4 linked regions of the Homo sapiens genome follow. The protein of the gene in region 2 interacts with the protein of the main gene of each other region in a pairwise test. Each region holds a gene or a part of one and is shown on either strand. Other genes may lie near its edges.

Region 1 (3,500 bases), on a different chromosome or scaffold from region 2:
GATTACAGGTGTGCACCACCACGCCTGGCTAATTTTTGTATTCTTTTTTTTTTTTATTATTTTTATTTTGAGATGGAGTCTTGCTCTGTCGCCCAGGCTGGAGTGCAGTGGCGCGATCTCGGCTCACTGCAAGCTCCGCCTCCCAGGTTCATGCCATTCTCCTGCCTCAGCCTCCCGAGTAGCTGGGACTACAGGTGCCTGCCACCACACCCGGCTAATTTTTTTGTATTCTTAGTAGAGAAGGTTTCACCGTGTTAGCCAGGCTGGTCTTGAACTTCTGACCTCAGGTGATCTGTCTACCTCGGCCTCCCAAAGTTCTGAGATTATAGGCGTGAGTCATGGTACCTGGCTGAGCCAGGTCTTAATTTTGGGGAAAAAGTGTTTTTTTAGCTGTCCATATTTCCCCTTGTGGAATTGAAAAGAATTTTTATCACTCATCTCTGAAGTAACTTATCTGTGATTCTGGGGTTGTCCTTTAACAACTTACTAAGTGGATTTTGGAAATAATTAATATTGCTTGTCATAATATGGAATCACCAAAGGGTAGTATTAAAAGAAGAATATCTAATGGTATGTCTTATTTTACATATTTTAATACTTGAATATGACTATAATTCTGTACTAAAAACCTCACATTTTGTTAAATTATCTAGGTAGTATTTAAGATAACATATCATTCAATTTCCTTACTTTTTAAAAAAATGTTTAAAACTTTATGATGGTTTCGTAGAAATATAACTTGTAGAAGGAAAATACATATGCATTGGTGTGATGTCATAAAGAAGACATGAATTAGGTAACAGGGAGCCCTATATTCAAATCTTACCTTTGCTTTTAAATAATTTTATGACAGGCTAAGTCGGTGAATTCATTTGGACCTGAATTTTCCTTATAGGTAAAATGAAAAAGTAGTTAGGTGAACGGAGGTCTCATCTAAGTTTAAACTTCCACATTTCAGAGATGTCAGAGTTCTCTACTGTTTCTGAAAATGTTACCAGCCCTTCCTTAATAATAAGTTTTGGCTACCTTATGCTCCAGATATTTTATGCTTTCTTTACTTTTCTTTTTCCAGGATTACTATAAAACAGGAATAATCCGTTGTCCTGATGGCATATCTATTCCTGAACTGAGAGAAGCATGTGACTATCTTTGTATCTCTTTTGAATATAGCACTATTAAATGTAGAGATCTCAGTAAGTATGATGTTTTGTGTGTAAGTGGTTTGTAGAATTAGAATATATTGGAACAAAAAGCCTGAAATTAGTGCTATTTACCTAGTTAGACTTAAAGTATTTAATTCAATTATAAAGCATTCTAGTACCACAAAGATTATTAATGAAAGCTTGCAAAGACCTTGATGATCTCCTTGTGCAATTTTCCAAATATTTTTTCAATTTTAATAATTTTCTTTTTTGACAAACCCAGATTTCCTCCTAGACAGTTTTCTATATTATTTATTTGTTACCAGTTTTATCTCCTAGATTTGGATCCTTGGCTTTGGTCAAGTGTGGTCATTTGGCTGCATTTCTTTGATTACATCATCCAAAAATTTATAATTTTTTGTATTACCACGTGTGATAATATGAGCACTATGGAAAACACAAATAATTCTCAAAAACAATACCTATCATTAAAGATCCTAGATTGAATGTCTAGCCCTCATGTATACATAGGATTAAATGACTTCATCCAAGAACTTCAAATATTGTCTCAAAGCAGTGTGTAGAAGGTTTTAATCCCAACTCTTTGATTGGTATTCTTCTCTCACTACTTCTTCAGCACCCCTACTCCCATTGTTACTTCTTCAGCACCCCTACTCCCATTGTTTCTCCCAACCCTGAGAAAAGATGTGATTATGCACAAAAAAGTCAAAATAGTGTATGAGAAGTATCAAATGTTGACTTAGGTACTTAAGCCAACACTTAAGTGGTTGGAGAAGTTCAGAGGAAGGGGAAGTCATTGTGGGCTAAGGATCGTGGAAGAGTTCAGTGGAAATACGTAGTAAAGAATGAACTAAATGATTTACAAAGAGTAGATAGTATTGTTTTGGGGAATTATTTATATCTTCCATAGTGCCCAGGATATCATCCTACATGGTAATACAAAAAATTCTCAGAGCTGAGGTTTCTGGAGTAAAGATGTAGTAGGTATACTTTGGAAATACAGTAGATCCAATAGATTGTCCAATAGATTGTTAGACAGCCAGAACATACAACTGTACATTTGAACAACGTTGCTGGGTTTTTGTTGTTGTTGTTGTTGTTGTTTTTGAGATGGAGTCTCGCTGTGTCACCCAGGCTGGAGTGCAGTGGTGCAATCTCAGCTCACTGCAACCTCTGCTTCCTGAGTTCAAGGGATTCTCCTGCCTTAGCCTCCCCAGTAGCTGGGGTTACAGGCACCCATCACCACACCTGGCTAATTTTTTTGTTTTAATAGAGACAGGGTTTCACTATGTTGGCCAGGTTGGTCTTGAACTCCTGAGCTCAGATGATGCACCTGCGTCGGTCTCCCAAAGTGCTGGGATTACAGGTGTGAGCCACTGTGCCTGGCCAGAGTTGCTGTTTTTTCACATCTTAAAAAAATGATTTTAGGGGCTGGGTGCAGTGGCTCACACCTGTAATCTCAGCACTTTGGGAGGCAGAGGCGGTCGGATCACCTGAGGTCGGGAGTTCGAGACCAGCCTGACCAACATGGAGAAACCTCTTCTCTACTAAAAATACAAAATTAGCCAGGCGTGGTGGTGCATGCCTGTAATTCCAGCTACTCGGGAGGCTGAGGCAGGAGAATTGCTTGAACACGGGAGGTGGAGGTTGTGGTGAGCCGAGATTGCGCCATCGCACTCCAGCATGGGCAACAAGAGTGAAACTCCATCTCAAAAAAAAAAAAAAAGTTTTAGTTGAAACCATGAGCATTATAGATCCCTGATTTCAAGTTTTGTGTCTATTCATACGACCATTTAAATTAATCTTTATATAATTAATGTTGAATTTTGGTGACTGGCAGAGATAGAAAAAAACTAGAATTTTTTACAGATGATGTGAATCTCTTAGTTCTGCAATCTTTTGTTGTGCGTAGTTTACCTTGTCATTACTACTAAGTATCTTTTATTTGTTACAGATTAAAAGTAAGGGTTTTATGTAAAATATGTGTAACATGATTATCCTAGACTTTTAGCTTTTCAGTAATATTTGTAGTTGTTTCTAGATTACTTGTAATATATGTTACTAAAAATTTAGAGATTCTCAAAGACGTTTTAAAAAAAAACTATATAGAATTTGAAGAGATGGAAGTGGTCTTGTAAAAATGTAGGTAGACTTTAATCCAAAAGTAAATTTTTTTTCTTGCAAATATATGCCTTTGCTGAATATTTGGAATGGCACTTTGCACTAAAATATCTGGGCTTATATCTTAATTTAAGAAGAAATTATACAATTTGCTTGCATGTTCTCTCTCTCTGGTTGAGGCACTCTTTTTCAGTTTGTGGCATTAAACTAGTTTGG
Region 2 (3,500 bases):
GGAGTTTGAGACCAGCCTGACCAACTTGGTGAAACCCCATCTCTACTAAAAATACAAAATTAGCTGGGCATGGTGGTGGATGCCTGTAATCCCAGCTACTCAGGAGGCTGAGGCAGGAGAATCACTTGAACCCAGGAGGCGGAGGTTGCAGTGAGCCAAGATGACGCCACTGCACTCCAGCTGGGGCAACAATAGCGAAACTCCGTCTCAAAAAAAAAAAAAAAACTGAACAACTACACAGCTGTAGTTGGTAAACAGTCATTTTTATGACTGAGAGTTAGGCATGCTGAAGATAAAGAACTAGAAAACTTTCTAGTAGAGAGTGTTGTTTGCTCTCATCTGGTTCTGAAGGTTATATGTCAAACAATAATTGGATGCCAAGAATATTAAGGCATAGATAGAGTAGATCTCATCTCAGAAAATGGTTGGTGTAGCTCAATTTCAAGCCTTTGTGATATATGATATCTCTGGAACCTGAGGAGCTCACGACAGCATAGAAAATCAACTGAAGCATAAAACATGCTCACATCTGAATTGGTCTCTTTTGACTTCATTTTGGAATTTGTGACACCAAAGGGAAAAGCAACATGTCGTCACAGGTTTTACAGGCAGTAGCTGCAATAAGGGAACAAAATCACTAAGGTTGCACAGAATAGAAAAGTCTATTAATTTATGCATTCATTTGGTCTTCCGTTTTTCAAATATATTAATACAACCTGCCACAGAATCCTTTTGCCCTTATTTAAAAGTAAGGGCAGCCAGGCACAGTGGCTCACGCTTGTAATCCCAGCACTTTGGGAGGCAAAGGCGGCGGATCACCTGAGGTTGGGAGTTCAAGACCAGCCTGACCAATATGGAGGAAACCCATCTCTACTAAAAATACAAAATTAGCCGGGTGTGGTGGTGCATGTCTAATCCCAGCTACTCGGGAGGCTGAGGCAGGAGAATTGCTTGAACCCGGGAAGCAGAGGTTGCGGTGAGCCGAGATGGCGCCATTGCGCTCCAGCCTGGGCAACGAGTGAAACTCCGTCTCAAAAGAAAAAAAAAATAGAAATAAAAAAATAAAGTAAGGGCAATGGCCTTTTTACTGTTTGGATTATAACAAATTATTGCCTTTTGTTTGCACAGTTGAGGCTTTCAGTGAGCTTAAATGAAAAATTCCGTCTTTTGGCTGTGTAAGTTTTTGCCTGCATATGCAAAGGCTTCATAAAATAATCTCTGTGACTAAAATTTCATTTCATCTGTTCTCAATCATCCCTTAACCCAGCGCTATATTACCTTATGCCTCCAATTCAGTGGTAGCCCTCTACGGAATAGAATTCCACTCCAACCCCTCATTCATGATGCACTAAATGAGAATGTAAGAATGATGCTACTGTGTGAAGTAGGAGACACTTTCTCAAACCGTATCCCTTTTTTTGATGTATGTCAACCAGATATCTATGTTTTCAAACAATAGTGTTTTTAAGCTGTAAATGAACCGTAGTACTGCTTTTGTAGAACTAAAATTGTATAATTGTTACATCATCTTAATTTTGCAGCTAACAGAACAAGAAGTAGAAACAATATTGGATAAAGCAATGGTCCTTTTTAGGTTTATGCAAGAAAAAGATGTATTTGAACGTTATTATAAACAACACTTGGCAAGGAGACTTCTCACAAATAAAAGTGTTTCTGATGACTCTGAAAAAAACATGATATCTAAGTTAAAGGTAAGGTGTGTTTTAGATGAAATAGAGTGCACCTAACTGAGGTTTATTATGATTGTGTACTGACAACGTGATTGGAAATTAATTTGGTAGATTATTAAGTGTTTATTTCTAGAAATAAAGGTAGATTGTTTTGGAGAAGAACACAGACTACACTAACATTTGTTCAAGTTCAGGGACATTCAGAGTTTGCTGGAATTTCTGTTGGTGTGTCAGGATACATTCATGGAGGCCTGGAAGGGAGGATTAGTAAAAGGGAAACAATAAAGAGGCTATGCTGTGTAGTTCTTTTTCACAAAGTGTGGTCCATAGAATACTTGCACGTGAATCACCTGAGATGCTAGTTAAAAACAGTTCTGGGCCCTGCCTTTCATGGGGGTATATTGGAATCTCTGAAAGAATCTGGGAATTTGCATTTTAAAATCCTAAAGTTTGATAACCACAGGCACAGAGCAACTGTTGGAAAAATTTACAGGAAGATTATCAGGGATAGCAATAACATGAAATAATTTATTTCTTTCTGTACTTTCTCATAGAAACATCTACCATTTATTTGTGTATATTTGTGTTTTTCCTCCACAGACTGAATGTGGATGTCAGTTCACGTCAAAACTGGAAGGAATGTTTAGGGATATGAGCATCTCAAACACAACGATGGATGAATTCAGGCAACATCTACAGGCAACTGGTGTAAGATTCTGCGTTAATTTCTACTTAGATATTCATGTAAAGTCTTTTGTAATGGGTATATTTTCATCCACTTAGCAGATGACAGTTGTTTCTTTAAATGTCATTAGTGACAACATGTGTTTTATCTGTGAGTACTTAATTTTCCTTCACATTGCCTCTTATTCTGTGTTTATGTTAAAACTTTTTATTCTTTTAAAATTTAGTTGTTTCTTCCCACTTGAAGGAATACACTGACAATTTAATAAAGAGAATTATTCTGTTGTTAATAAAGATAATACAAATCTATTATAAATTGTGGAAAGAGTACTGGGCTTAACACAAGTTTACTGAGTTTCAGTACTCTTCTTTTCACTTTACCCCAAGATTGTGTCATCTTGGGATAGTCACCTGACCTTCCTATACCTCACTACTATTATTCTCCTCTGTAAGTTTAGCTTAAATGGGACTTACATCCTAAGGGTGCGTAGCAGGTGAAGTGAGACTATAAAAACACAGAAATTAATGTATTATAAATGTGTTTGGTATAACTCCCCAAAGGTGGTGAGCTGGAACTTCTTTAGCTTTGGAGTCTGATGGGAGTTTTATGAGCATTTAATGAAATTCAGAATTTAGTTTCATTTTTTACTCTGATTTTCAACTTAACCTTAAGTTTAGAGAATTGTACAGTTTTTAAATTTTTAAAATCACCGTGTACCACTCTATGGTTAAAATGTGTCACAACCATTTAACAGATTTGTGAGTCTTTTCCTTTGGTATCTAAATATGAGATCATCACTTCTACTGGCCTTATAGTCTCGCAAACCAGATACGTGAAAATACGTAATTCTGTAGAATAACCATTCATTTCTATGAAAACATTCTGACTCTAATGTAAATAGTTGTATGATTTGCTTTATAAATATCAGTGTTTACAGTGGAGAAGAGCTGAGAGGAGGAAAGATGCAAGTCCATGACAGAAATTTCGGGTGGACAGGAAATAGTGGTGTAATTATCCTGGATTTTTATTTTTAGATTGTTTAGGAATTTATAGTTAAATCTAATATATTGATATATTTTCTTGTATTTTTTTGTTTGCTCTAGTAAGTTTTTAAATTTTTTTCT
Region 3 (3,500 bases), on a different chromosome or scaffold from region 2:
GCTTCTGAGCGCAGGGACTGGGTCTTTTTCCTTCTGCCAAAAACCCTCTCAGCGCCAGTCTCTTGGGAAATGCTCACCAAATGCTTGAATGAAAAACAGAACCAAGCACGAGGCTGGGCTGCATCGCATCCCGTGATGTGGAATGTGCATTTTCTAAGATTTCTGGGAAGGAAGTACTTAAGGAAGGCTAAGTGGAAGCGTTGGGAGTTGGTCTCTGAAGTGGGAGTAGGATTTGGATATACAAAATGTGAGACTAGGAGCTCTCACAAGCCCCAGGGGCCTGCCAGCCCCGGGCACTTCTCGGTACTGTAGACGCCAGCTTTAAACTTCTAGCCAGTTCCCAGCACAGCCTGGAGAGCCTGATGAGAAGGCAGTTTGTGTTGCAGCGCTGCTCTCAAGAGATCCTGGAGGCCCAAAGCAGCAGCTCTGAGCAGACAGAAAGAAATCAGCTGCTGTGGGCCTTACTTATTCTGTATCCCACTTCTGTTCTGTGCAGGGATGGGAGGGACTGAGGTGTAGATTGAGGTGACCAGAAGGCCTCCTTCAAGCATCCCGCGAGCAAGAGCGGCTTCCAAAGGGTGCCAGTGAGTAGTATCTGGGTCCCTTTGGAAGAGTTTAGAAGCTGGACGCCATGGCTTGTGCCTATAGTCCCAGCTACTGAGGAGGCTGAGGCAGGAGGAATGCTTAAGACCAGGAGTTCAAGACCATCCTGGATGGCATAACAAGACGCTGTTTCTAAAAATAAACACATAAATGATAGTAGAGGCCTGTACTCTGGTGCTGTCAGCAAACTGGGGCTCAGCACAGGTTGTCGCTCTAGGGGTCAGGTGTTCTCAGGGTCTTCTCAGCAGATACACATGCAGCACAGGGAAGGCTGCCCGTCTGGGGGAGCCTGGGTGTGAGGGCCAGAGCTCTTCAATTTCTCAGGGTTCAGTTCATCTTCTCCTAAGCAGGATCTCATTGCTGTCCGCTCACTCCTTCCCTCCCCAGGTGGTGTTTCCCTACACAAGCAAGAGCTGCATGCGGGCCGTGCTGGAATACCTCTACACCGGCATGTTCACCTCCAGCCCCGACCTGGATGACATGAAGCTCATCATTCTAGCCAACCGCCTCTGCCTGCCACACCTGGTTGCCCTCACAGGTAACTAAGCAGTGCACTCGGGGACCTCCCCGCGGCAGAGGCCAGGGAAACCCCAAGGTGCAATGTTCTCCTCTCACGTCTCTCCTGGGGGACAAGCTGATGTCCAAGGGACTAAGCGTACATGAAATGGAATCTGTTGACGGGCACAGAGTTCTGGATGAGGACACAGAGTGAAGAAGGGTGGTGCGGGGCATGTTTGATGGGGTCACCTGAGAGGCTCTCTCCAAAGGCGATTTAAACCCAACAAAATGGAACATGAGGCTGGGCACAGAGGCTCACACCTATAATCCCAGCACTTTGGGAGGCCAAGGCGGGAGGATCACTTGAGGCCAGGAGTTTAAGACCAGCCTAGCCAACATGGTCTTACCCGTCATGGCAAACTGCCATGAAACCCGTCTCTACTAAAAATATAAAAATTAGCTGTGTTTGGTGGCAGGCGCCTGTAATCCCAGCTACTCGGGAGGCTGAGGCAAGAGAATTGCTTGAACCCGGGAGGTGGAGTTTGCAGTGAGCTGAGTTTGCACCACTGCACTCCAGCCTGGGTGACAGAGTGAAACTGTGTCTCAAAAACAAACAAACAAAAAATGGAACATGACAGTGCTTTATGTTCTTTGCTTGGCTTCACTTGGACAAGCTTAAGAAGTCAAAAAATAATAGAACACAATTCCCACATTTCTACCCTGTGGTTCTCCTCCTTCTTCCTTTCCTTTTATTTTTCTTCTTTTGCCTTTTTTCTTCTTCCCCTACCTTTGACATCACCTTCTCATCCTCTTTCCAGAAACAGCACACAAACATCCCTGCCACTCCTTAGTCCCTGCACGGATTGTACGAGCCGGAGCTCAGCTTTTAGTGTGGACAAATCCCAGGGGCTCTCTGAGTTGGAACAAGAACTGAGTCATGGGGGAGAGCCAGCGGCAGGCAGTCTGGGTCCAAGGGGCCAGGGAAGAGAAGTGGTGCTCGTGGGGTGAAGGGAGCCTGGGGCCAGAGACCCAGGCAGGCAGACGGCTCTCGTTCATGTTGGAGTTGGCACTTGAGTTGCTAGTGGTGGCGGCAGGGGTACCAGCGCTGGTGTTGATGCCGAGGTTAATATTCTTGCATAGGTCGGGGACAGAGAGCACATCCTCACATACTGAGTTGAGATTCAGGGAAGAACCCAGTGTCAGAGCTGCTGGGGTCCAGGCAGATGATCAAGATCGGGGCTCAGATATGAGGGAAAACAGCAATCCGTGAGGAAAAATGAATGATAAGGTGGGGCTGGGTTACAGAAAGAAGGCAGAAATCATTGATCAGAACCAGAATATTAAGAGCGGAGGCTGCAGTGGGAGTCCAGGGTCCCCAGAAGGGGATAAAGGGAACTTTGGGGCAGGTAGCAAGAGAGGCATCTAAAGATCCCAGCTACAACAGTATATCTTGTTTTGCTGTCCATAAAAAAATGGTGTGATCTTCCCAGAGCACATAAAACTTCAAATTCCTAGATGGAATAATTCCACTTTTAAAAGACTATCTCCAGAGAAATGACCCAAAGGGGAAAAATGCATAAAGGTATTTCTAGAAGTTCATTTCGTCATGGCAGGCAATTGAAAGCAAGTCACAGAAAAACCGTTGGTGAAGCACACACAGGCAGTTTTCACATGGTAGTCATTAAAAATGTTAAACTAGACTGCTGCATGGAAAGGCTTATTGAAAATAATGTTAAGTAACTTTTCATGAAATTATCGATACACACTAGGGAACATCCACAAAAATGTTTATATCTGCCTTGTTAAGGATCAGGGGAAGATGCCAAGTTTTATATAATTGGCGATGGTTTAAGTTTTGTGACATATGCTTCCTATGAGGCCATTAATTCAAGTTGAAAACTTTTATTGCTCAGTAGAACACAAATACATAAAAGCATATTAAACATATGTTCAGGTTACTGAATTACTATTGTTATTATGTTTTTTTAGAGACAGGATCTTGCTCTGTCACGCAGACTGGAGTGCAATGGCCTGATCATAGTTCACTGCAGCCTCAAATTCCTGGGCTCAAGCGATCCTCCCAACTCAGCTTCCCAAGTACCTTGGACTATGGGCCTGCCTCATCACACCCAGCTAATTTTTAAATTTATTTTTATTTATTTATTTATTTATTGACATAGAGTCTCACTTGGTCTCTCAGGCTGGAGTGCAGTGGTGCAATCCTGGCTCACTGCACCCTCTGCCTCCTGGGTTCAAGCGATTCTCCTGCCTGAGCCTCCTGAGTAGCTGGGACTACAGGCATACACCACCACACCCAGCTAATTTTTGTAATTTGAGATGGGGTTTTGCCATGTTGGCCAGGCTGGTCTTGAACTCCTGACCTCAAGTGATCCACCCAC
Region 4 (3,500 bases), on a different chromosome or scaffold from region 2:
CCCTAAAGCATACATCTCTGTACCCACAAAAATTAAAAATAAAAGATAAAAATTGAAAAACATGATGTTTTGAAATATGTGTATGTTGTAGATTCAACCTGTTATAATCTTAAAAGTGATTGTCATTCTTCCAACTTATATCAATAGAACAACTGTCTATTTGTCGTTAGTTGAGACCATCAGGGTGTAGTGAAAAAGCTAATCAACAAGGATTCTTCTCACCAGAGCTCTGTCACTCCTCTGAATTGTGGCTGCTAGCCTGTTAATTCTCCACTAAACCTTTAGGCATTTGGAGACAATTAAGTCTCATGTTGGGGTTTCCTGGGCTTTTTTTTGTTTTTTTTCAAACAAAGATAATTAAGTCTCAAACTTGAAACTTGAAAGATATTTGGCCAGGCAGCAGCAATGTACTGAGTATAGGCTTCTCAAAGAGATGAAGTAATACAATTAGTAGAAAGAACTATCGTGTACTTAATACAGTTGCTCTCTACTTTTCTTTCTCAACCTCCCCCAAAACAAAACAAAACCAAGATGCTTCAGTCAAGCACTATAAAAGGACTATTAAATTATCGCGAAAAGGAATGTTAAGACAGTCTAATACTCTCATTCTGCAGATGGGAAAGTAGAAGTGCACATTGTAATTATTTTTCAAAATAAGGTAAAAGCTGATAATTGTGTAAATAAGCAAAAGTATATACTTTTTCCTTAATCGTTTTTAACCTAAATTAGTCTTAATTTTGTGTTATTCCTACAGTGAAAGAAAACATGCATTGTCACATATCAGGAAAGTTGTGCAGTTATTTTTTCTTCTCCCGAATATTCTGTTGGCTTTATGTTCCACATATGTTGCACCACATTAATATTCAAACAATTTTAGCACACGAAGATTTGTAACCTCATTTTACCTTGATTAGTGACTCAACTCATGTTCTTGTTGTAGGGCTTTGACCAGCTTCGACTTGAAGGATTGCTTTGTGATGTGACCCTGATGCCAGGTGACACAGATGATGCTTTCCCTGTGCATAGAGTCATGATGGCATCTGCTAGTGATTACTTCAAGGCTATGTTCACAGGTAGTTTGCCTTTTAAAACTCTGAAACCACATTAAAACAATATGAAAAATCCGTGTTTAAATCTTTTTTATTTCTAACATGAAATTTGGTTCTTTTGGAAACAGCTTCAAAAGAAGTACACAACAGTATGTATGGTTTTCGGTGGTGCTGTTTTAACATGGAAAATTGATGCACTTTTTTCATACTGTCCATCTTTATCTCACAGCTTTTCTTTTTCAAGCTTATATCTAGTGGGCCATCAGAGACTCTGTGTCCTCCTAGTACAATCTCTACTCTATGTCAAAAAATAGGAAGTGAGAACATTTTGGAAGCACTTGCATCATATATGACCTCCATTAGTATAGAGATTATCTTTTTTAAGTACTTTCTTTTAACAGTAAAATGTGCAGCAGACTGACTCTAATATGACTGCTTATATAAGATAAGACTTTCCTTTGATTTTATTGCATCTAATTAGCAGCAGAAGTGAGTTTGACCATAATTATCCACCTTCATTTAATTGAATGTCTTTTTATTTAAGGTGGAATGAAAGAACAAGATTTAATGTGCATTAAACTTCATGGTGTGAGCAAAGTCGGTCTAAGGAAAATTATTGATTTCATTTATACTGCAAAGCTTTCTCTTAATATGGACAACCTTCAAGACACGCTGGAAGCTGCCAGTTTCCTACAGATTCTGCCAGTTTTGGACTTCTGTAAAGTGTTTCTCATATCTGGGGTAAGATATTTTGAAATCTGATTTTTCCTGTGGTAGACTCTGATGTAGCCTGTTTAGGACTCATGAAATCTGCTGTGCAGGAATGTGAAACTTGCCATTAGACAGATGTGTCTTGTTGTATGTGGTCTGTAAGCAAGGTGAGATTGAAACAGGTGCATTTTTATGAAATAGAATCATTTAATAAAAGCCTCTGTGTTGGCCGGGCATCGTGGCTCACGCCTGTAATCCCAGCACTTTGGGAGGCCGAGGCGGGCAGATCGTCTAAGGTTGGGAGTTCAAGACCAGCCTGACCAACATGGAGAAAGCCCGTCTCTACTAAAAATACAAAAATTAGCTGTGCATGGTGGTGCATGCCTGTAATTCCAGCTACTTGGGAGGCTGAGGCAGGAGAATCGCTTGAACCTGGGAGGTGGAGGTTGTGGCGAACTGAGATCACGCCATTGCACTCCAGCCTGGGCAACAAGAGTGAGACTCCATCTCAGGAAGAAAAAAAAAGCCTCTGTGTAATCAAATGACATGAGATACTAATAATGTTTGATGAAGATATATACTTTAACTGTTTGATAATGGTATGTACCATAATCTGGTTTTATTCACCTTAATGACTATACAAGCAGGCTTCTTAAATGTAATTGAATGGAAAAGTAATCTGAGCTTCTAGAACTCTTTAAAATTTCTTCTTTTAATAAGGGAGCTAGATCTTAAGAAGAACTAATACCTATGGGCAAACCTGTAAGAATGTAAGTCTTGATTCCATAGAAACATATCACCTACTGAATAGTGTTTAGCCATTTTTTAATAGATAAGATAGGACACATACAACTACCAATCGATGGAGTACTTAATGATAGTCACCCAGTTCCTGAAGAGAGTGTTTTATTTTAGTTGAGACCTTTAAATTTTACTTCTGGGGAGATAAATGGCTACATTGGACAGAAATATTGCCAAGACTTCCAGAGGTCTTGGAGCTTGTTTTTCTGATTAAGAATTCTGGCAATATTAATTTTTGGTATATTTTCTAACTCATTATGTTGATGGATATGTTTTCTATAATTTTTTAACTCATATGAATCTTAATATAGGTAAATAATTGCTGTTAGATCTTTACAACTTACATTTTTTGAACATGGAACCTTCTTTAAAACACTAAGTTTCAAGAGAGCCATGTCCTTAATTATTTTATTATTAAGGTACTTAACTATCTTAAAAGTCAGCCAATAACTAATTTAACTGGCCTATTGAAAGTGTGTTTTTTGTATGTTTGATTTTAGAAAACTCAGACTGCTGTCTCACAATTACTTATAAAATTTGAACTAATTGCTACTTTTAAGGGTTTTTATGGCAGCATGGTGCTATATTGTTGACTTGTATTGTCTTCTTTATTGCGAAAGTAGCCCAAGTGAAGTTGGTTAATTCCCATGCTATTGCTTGCCTCCATTACTGAATTTAGGTGCTAAATTTTATTTAAATTTGATCATGCAAGGCCCATTCCCTCAAGAGCTATTAGGATCTCACCTCTGGTTGTGTCACTGGCATGATATAACAACTTCATTTCAAGGAAAAATGAATCATATTGAATGTGATTTTCAAAATGCCTCAAGTCCAGAATTTAATTTAGTAGTAACACTTAAAGCTTGTACTTATAGACTCTTAACATTGCTTTACACTGATCTTAGCAACACATGGTCATCCTGAGCCAAATTAAGGAAA

The links. The genes of interacting proteins can lie anywhere in the genome.
Region 1: the proteins of CUL3 (region 2) and BTBD10 interact in binary tests that used the Homo sapiens proteins (3 or more experiments, as listed by UniProt).
Region 3: the proteins of CUL3 (region 2) and RHOBTB2 interact in a two-hybrid assay, tested with the Homo sapiens proteins (2 studies listed by BioGRID).
Region 4: the proteins of CUL3 (region 2) and KLHL13 interact in binary tests that used the Homo sapiens proteins (3 or more experiments, as listed by UniProt).

What each region holds. Positions count from the first base shown.
Region 1 is NC_000011.10:13,411,223-13,414,722, reverse strand, and holds part of BTBD10 (BTB/POZ domain-containing protein 10), read left to right. Parts: intron 1-1,072; coding exon 1,073-1,193; intron 1,194-3,500. UniProt on the Homo sapiens protein: Plays a major role as an activator of AKT family members by inhibiting PPP2CA-mediated dephosphorylation, thereby keeping AKTs activated. Plays a role in preventing motor neuronal death and accelerating the growth of pancreatic beta cells.
Region 2 is NC_000002.12:224,501,864-224,505,363, reverse strand, and holds part of CUL3 (cullin-3), read left to right. Parts: intron 1-1,541; coding exon 1,542-1,712; intron 1,713-2,291; coding exon 2,292-2,399; intron 2,400-3,500. UniProt on the Homo sapiens protein: Core component of multiple cullin-RING-based BCR (BTB-CUL3-RBX1) E3 ubiquitin-protein ligase complexes which mediate the ubiquitination and subsequent proteasomal degradation of target proteins.
Region 3 is NC_000008.11:23,009,548-23,013,047, forward strand, and holds part of RHOBTB2 (rho-related BTB domain-containing protein 2), read left to right. Parts: intron 1-990; coding exon 991-1,141; intron 1,142-3,500. UniProt on the Homo sapiens protein: Regulator of cell proliferation and apoptosis. It likely functions as a substrate-adapter that recruits key substrates, e.g. MSI2, to CUL3-based ubiquitin ligase complexes for degradation. Required for MSI2 ubiquitination and degradation.
Region 4 is NC_000023.11:117,917,811-117,921,310, reverse strand, and holds part of KLHL13 (kelch-like protein 13), read left to right. Parts: intron 1-940; coding exon 941-1,073; intron 1,074-1,593; coding exon 1,594-1,790; intron 1,791-3,500. UniProt on the Homo sapiens protein: Substrate-specific adapter of a BCR (BTB-CUL3-RBX1) E3 ubiquitin-protein ligase complex required for mitotic progression and cytokinesis.